2 linked regions of the Homo sapiens genome follow. The protein of the gene in region 1 interacts with the protein of each later gene in a pairwise test. Each region holds a gene or a part of one and is shown on either strand. Other genes may lie near its edges. The genes, in order: CASP2 and RAI1.

What was found.
Region 2: the proteins of CASP2 (region 1) and RAI1 interact in a two-hybrid assay, tested with the Homo sapiens proteins (one large-scale study listed by BioGRID and IntAct).

What each region holds. Positions count from the first base shown.
Region 1 is NC_000007.14:143,305,327-143,308,487, forward strand, and holds the end of CASP2 (caspase-2 isoform 1 preproprotein), read left to right. Parts: 3' UTR 1-2,370; downstream 2,371-3,161. UniProt on the Homo sapiens protein: Is a regulator of the cascade of caspases responsible for apoptosis execution. Might function by either activating some proteins required for cell death or inactivating proteins necessary for cell survival.
Region 2 is NC_000017.11:17,799,687-17,803,501, reverse strand, and holds part of RAI1 (retinoic acid-induced protein 1), read right to left. Parts: intron 1-3,815. UniProt on the Homo sapiens protein: Transcriptional regulator of the circadian clock components: CLOCK, BMAL1, BMAL2, PER1/3, CRY1/2, NR1D1/2 and RORA/C. Positively regulates the transcriptional activity of CLOCK a core component of the circadian clock.

The sequences.
Region 1 (3,161 bases):
AGAGCCTGACAAGTGAAGTTGTAAACACAGTGTGGTTATGGGGAGAGGGCATATAAATTCCCCATATTTGTGTTCAGTTCCAGCTTTTGTAGATGGCACTTTAGTGATTGCTTTTATTACATTAGTTAAGATGTCTGAGAGACCATCTCCTATCTTTTATTTCATTCATATCCTCCGCCCTTTTTGTCCTAGAGTGAGAGTTTGGAAGGTGTCCAAATTTAATGTAGACATTATCTTTTGGCTCTGAAGAAGCAAACATGACTAGAGACGCACCTTGCTGCAGTGTCCAGAAGCGGCCTGTGCGTTCCCTTCAGTACTGCAGCGCCACCCAGTGGAAGGACACTCTTGGCTCGTTTGGGCTCAAGGCACCGCAGCCTGTCAGCCAACATTGCCTTGCATTTGTACCTTATTGATCTTTGCCCATGGAAGTCTCAAAGATCTTTCGTTGGTTGTTTCTCTGAGCTTTGTTACTGAAATGAGCCTCGTGGGGAGCATCAGAGAAGGCCAGGAAGAATGGTGTGTTTCCCTAGACTCTGTAACCACCTCTCTGTCTTTTTCCTTCCTGAGAAACGTCCATCTCTCTCCCTTACTATTCCCACTTTCATTCAATCAACCTGCACTTCATATCTAGATTTCTAGAAAAGCTTCCTAGCTTATCTCCCTGCTTCATATCTCTCCCTTCTTTACCTTCATTTCATCCTGTTGGCTGCTGCCACCAAATCTGTCTAGAATCCTGCTTTACAGGATCATGTAAATGCTCAAAGATGTAATGTAGTTCTTTGTTCCTGCTTTCTCTTTCAGTATTAAACTCTCCTTTGATATTATGTGGCTTTTATTTCAGTGCCATACATGTTATTGTTTTCAACCTAGAAACCTTTATCCCTGCTTATCTGAAACTTCCCAACTTCCCTGTTCTTTAAGACTTTTTTTTTTTTTTTTTTTTTTTTTGAGACAGAGTCTCGCTCTGTCGCCCAGGCTGGAGGGCAGTGGCACGATCTCAGCTCACTGCAAGCTCCAACTCCCGGGTTCACGCCATTCTCCTGCCTCAGCCTTCCAAGTAGCTGGGACTACAGGTGCCCGCCACCGTGCCCGGCTAATTTTTTTGTATTTTTAGTAGAGACAGGGTTTCACCATGTTAGCCGGGATGGTCTTGATCTCCTGACCTCATGATCCACCCACCTCAGCCTCCCAAAGTGTTGGGATTACAGGCGTGAGCCACTGCGCCCGGGCAAGACCTTTTTTTAAAAAAAAAAAAAAAAAAACTTCCATTCTTTCTTCCTCCAGTCTGTTCTCACATAACAGAGTAGTTTTGGTTTTTAATTTTTTTTGGTTGTTTGCTGTTTTTTGTTTTTTAAGGTGAGTTCTCACTATGTTTCTCAGACTGGTCTCGAACTCCTGGCCTCAAGCCATCTTCCCGCCTCAGCCTCTCAAATAGCTGGGCTTACAGGCATGAGCCACCACACCTGGCCAGGATTTGGTTGTTTAAATATAAATCTGATCACCCCCCTGCTTAGAACCCTTCTGCTTTCTATTACCCCTCATTTAAAATGTAAACTCTTCACCTTGGTTTATGAGAACTGGTTCTTGCCTTCCCCTTGAACCTCATTAAATGGTGATTTCTTGCTAAGCTCCAGCCCGAGTGGTCTCCTCTCAGCTTCTAATTTTGTGCTCTTTCCTGCCCTTTTCCTGGGCCTTCTCAGCTCTCCACCCCCACCACTCTTGACTCAGGTGGTGTCCTTCTTCCTCAAGTCTTGACAATTCCCGGGCCCTTCAGTCCCTGAGCAGTCTACTTCTGTGTCTGTCACCACATCTTGTCTTTTCCCCTCATTGCATTTATTGCAGTTTATATATATGCTACTTTTACTTGTTCATTTCTGTCTCCCCTACCAGGCTGTAAATGAGGGCAGAAACCTTGTTTGTTTTATTCACCATCATGTACCAAGTGCTTGGCACATAGTGGGCCTTCATTAAATGTTTGTTGAATAAAAGAGGGAAGAAGGCAAGCCAACCTTAGCTACAATCCTACCTTTTGATAAAATGTTCCTTTTGACAATATACACGGATTATTATTTGTACTTTGTTTTTCCATGTGTTTTGCTTTTATCCACTGGCATTTTTAGCTCCTTGAAGACATATCATGTGTGAGATAACTTCCTTCACATCTCCCATGGTCCCTAGCAAAATGCTAGGCCTGTAGTAGTCAAGGTGCTCAATAAATATTTGTTTGGGTGGTTTGTGAGCCTTGCTGCCAAGTCCTGCCTTTGGGTCGACATAGTATGGAAGTATTTGAGAGAGAGAACCTTTCCACTCCCACTGCCAGGATTTTGTATTGCCATCGGGTGCCAAATAAATGCTCATATTTATTACTGATGTGTGCTCAATATCTGTTTCTGTAGATACTCAGTCCTCTGAAGCCCACAGATTTCGTTTCCTTAGCCCCTTACACTGCAGCATTCCTTACCACCTCACAAGGCATACCCAGACCTGAAAACCCTTCTTATTTTGCTGCTGTGATCCTGTAAATATATGCAGGTGTGGGCCCATCTCAGTTTGCGTAGTCCTGGGATTTCTCACAGATGAAATGGAAGTTATTAGCAAACAGTGCTGGTTCTTGATTATTTAGACTATGAGATGTAGGCTGCCATAACAGATTGGGCTGGAATAGAAGGATGGGAGAGTGAAGATAGTAAAATTCCATTTCTTACCTGGTTGCATTTAAGGTCTTCTAGAGTGGGCATAGATTGTAAGAGAATTCTAGTGCAGCATAGAAGAGATCAAAGCAATGAATTTGTGTAAGTTGGGATATTTTGGGGGTGCATTGTATCTAAAGGATATGCCTGAGAGGTAAGTGCAGGTGCAGATGGGCCATGGAATTTGGCAAGAGATGGAATGTTCTGTAGGAACTTTGTACAGAAGTTTTGGTAGGAAACAAAACTTTTTTTTTTAAATACGGGATTTCACCATGTTGGCCAGGCTGGTCTCTAACTCCTGGCCTCAAGTGATCAGCCCGCTTCGGCCTCCCAAAGTGCTAGGATTATAGGTATGAGCCACCTATAACAAACCAGAAACAAAACTTTTTTGTTTGGTAGGAAACAGCTGTGGGAGCTGGAAATATTGTTGAGTCATACAGAGAAGGGTATGGCAGTCTAGGAAGAGCAGAA
Region 2 (3,815 bases), on another chromosome or scaffold:
TTGCTGCAGCCTGGGAGGTTGAGGCTGCAGTGAGCCGAGATGACGCCACTGCCTGTACTCCAGCCTGGGCAAGAGTGAGACCCTGCCTCAAAAAACAAACAAACAAACAAACAAAAAAAACACAAAAAACCTGTACAGGCTGGCTGGCCCCCTGTGGTCCCTGCCTCCCTTCTCCAAAATGGTGCTTGAAAATCTACCAGAAGGAGGTTCAGCACTGGGGTACACATGCCCACAAACATGGGTCATTTAGCACCCTCTGGGCTGGTACATTGGGTAGGGAGACCCCCTTGGGCCAGTGATGCCAGTTACTACCATGGCTGTGGCTACCAGCCAGCATCTGCTGCATGCTTCTGGTGTGCTGGGCGTGGTGTGTGTCCTTGCCCACTGGCTTGCTTTTTTTTTTTTTTTTTTTTTTTGAGACAGAATTTCACTCTGTCCCCCCGGGGCTGGAGTGCAATGGTGTGATCTCCGCTCACGGCAACCGCTGCCTCCTGTGTTCAAGTGATTCTCCTGCCTTAGCCTCCCGAGTAGCTGGGATTACAGGCATGTGCTGCCATGCCCAGCTAATTTTTGTATTTTTAGTAGAGACGGAGTTTCACTGTGTCGGCCAGGCTGGTCTCGAACTCCCGACCTCAGGTGATCTGCCTGCCTAGGCCTCCCAAAGTGCTGGGATTACAGGTGTAAGACATAGCGCCTGGCCTACTGGCTCTTTTTTCTTTTGCTTTTGAGATGGAGTCTTGCTCTGTTGCCCAGGCTAGAGAGCAGTGGCACAATCTTGGCTCACTGCAAGCTCCGCCTCCCGGGTTCACGCCATTCTCCTGCCTCAGCCTCCCCAGTAGCTGGGACTACAGGTGCCCGCCACCACGCCAGGCTAATTTTTTGTATTTTTAGTAGAGACGGGGTTTCTCCGTGTTAGCCAGGATGGTCTCGATCTCCTGACCTCGTGATCCGCCCACCTCAGCCTCCCAAAGTGCTGGGATTACAGGCGTGAGCCACCGCGCCTGGCCGCCTACTGGCTCTAACAGCCCTCTGTGGGTCCCTTTCATTAATCTCACTTTACAGATGGTGAAACTGAGGCTCCCATTCCAGGCAACAGTGAAGGCATTCAGCATGGTTTTCTACCCTTTCTGGCAGCAGGAGCACTTTGAAGCTAGGCTGGGACTGTTCTACCTAGGATGAGACCTGCACCCTCCAGGGGACCAGCTCTCAGACCTGTGAGAGGAGGCGGTGACGTGGTAATCCCTTGAGATGGCTGACTTCATGTAAATCTGATGCCGTCCTCCTCTAAGTCTCAAAACTGTCCTCTGCTGAGCTTGGGGGCTGCCCCACACCTGGACCAGCTGCTTGGAGTGGACGTGGCCAGGACAGGACAGTCACACCAAGAAGGCCCTTGGAAGAGTGAAGCAAACCTGAGGCCGGGGAGGGAGAAGTCACCAGGCGCCAGAGCCACAGTGCCACCGTGCTGGGGGCGGGGGGTGAGGTAGAGAAGGCAGCAGAGAGGGCGGCGGCCTCTGCCCAAGTGCGAAGCCAGTGAAACAAACGACAATAGCTTCCTATGTGCCAGGCATGGCTGGAAGCCTCATGCCCACAGCAACCTTATGATGGGATTACTGTTATTTTACCTGGGTTACCAATGAGAGCTGAGGCTGAGTAACCTGCCCGAGGGCTCCAGGCTGGTCTCTGACCCCTGCAGCTGCCTCCAGGCTGGAGTAGGGGCCCACAGGACCCCACATGCTCAGGGTGGGCGCACCATCCCAACCACAGCAGCTGAGAAATGTCAGAACACTCCCCTCCCCGCTGCCCATGCTGGGAGTGGGGCCTGGGGTTTATTCTAGAATTTCAGGTTTTCAGCTCAGGGCTGAGGCCTCCTTCCCGCCTAGTCTGGGATGGCCTCCTGGAGATCTGGAGTCCAGCGTCCCCAGTTCCTGACCCAAAAGGGATGACGAAACACAAGCCGGCTGCTGTCTGTGAGTGGCCCTTGGTGTCTGGATGTTTAAGCATATGGGGGTCCTCTGGCTGAAGGCTTCTCTCCACTTACTGCACGGAGGCCCCAACCACCCTCAGGCAGGCATATGAATAGCATTTTAGATGTGAAGAAACTAAGATGCAGAGAGAGTGAGGCCTCAGGCCCTTCTGACCCCAGCTACCCAAGAGGAGGGCAGGGGTGGCGGCATGTAAACCCTGCCACAGGTGGGGCCTCTGCAGACACCACCTAGCCCCCTAACAATGCCCGGAGCCCGCTATGGGTCCCTCTCACCCCAAGCATTCCATGGCCAGGCTCCATCTGGATAGGAGGTAGGGGTCTATGATGGCTTTGGGGGAAGGGCAGGCAGGGCTCAGAGATAGCAGGCGAGGGCAGTTCCCAGAAAAGGCCATCGAGGAAAAAAGGTATCCCTGAGAGCTGGCTCAGAGGTTCTGCCCTCCAGAGCGCAAAAGTGAGGTCAAGGTACCGAGGGGTGTGGCAGTGCTGGGGCCAGGGACACAGCTGCACCCCAAGCCCCTTCCACATGCCAGGCAGGTCCCACATGATCCACAGAACCCCACAATCCTGCTAACGGGGTTTGACATTGTGGAGTTCTCAGAGCATGCGTGACTCGCCTGGAGCTATGGAACCAGCCCTCGGCAGAGCTGGGATTTGAACCAGGGTCTCACTCCAAGGAGCATGGCGCCCCCAAGCCACTGAGGCAGGAAGGGGTGGTGAGCCAAAAGTGACCCTGGGAAGCCCCAGACTCTGCCCATTCTCCCAGGATGTCCCATCTGTCTGGCAGGGTGTTCCTGGTTCCGACCTTCCCGGGGCAGCCCTAGTTGCGCAGGCTGTCAGGCCATTTCTGGAGCATGGCACAGCAGACAGGCATGGGCTGGGCTGGCAAGTTCCAGCCCCCGCGTGGTGTAGGGAAGCTAGCGCCTCTCCAACACACACTGTCTCCTCAGTCCAGCAGGACCTTGTGTGTGCATGGGCGGTTAAGACACCCATGGGCCAGGGACAGGATGGGGTGGTCGGTGCTCGGGGCTGACCCCTCCTCCCTTCGGCCGGCCAGTGCTGGCTGCAGGGGATGTGGAGACGACCTGATCTCAGCCTGGTGGGACGTGAGTGTCGGGGAGCCCCTGGTGAGGCTGCGGGACCGAGGATGCCGTGGGGACAAGGCTTTCAGGAATGGGGCTGTGAAGCAGGGGAGGTGGCAGCCAGCTGGGGCTGGTGATCTGAGGGTTATTATTTTTTGATGACGGGAGAGACTTGAACCTGTTTCAAGGCGCTGGGAAGGAGCCAGTAATGAGAGAGAGAGAGAGAGAGAGAGAGAGAGAGAGAGAGAGAGAGAGAGACAGAGAGAGACAGAAAGCAGGAGAGAGGCAAAAAATCACTAACTGGGAAGGGGAGAGGGAAGAGGCCCAAGGCCACCATCTGCTGGGTAAGCAAGGCCCGCGGCACCAGGAACCTGCAGGAGTCCTGTCGGGGCCAGCCTTCCTCTGAGGTGGAGGGTGGAGTGAGGTGGGCAGGGCGTCTGGGCGTGGAGAAGGTCTCCAGCCATCCCCATGGGCAGTGGGAAGCAGGTGCCCAAGACACACACTAGGAGGCGTGGGTGGCAAACACAGTGGGCCCCCACCGGGACCTTGGTTTGGCCAGGCAATGCCACGGCAACTGTCAGGAGCAGGGGCTGCTCAGAGGGGCTGCAGGGGTGTACTGCGAGGAGCAGGTGGGCAGTGCAGCGACGGGGGAGGAGGCTGGGCAGGGGGAGGGGCGAAGCCACCGGCTGGGGCCACTGTGCTGGGTCACTGAATCACTCAGATGCAGGCAGTGTTTGTCCAGGGCCTCTGGA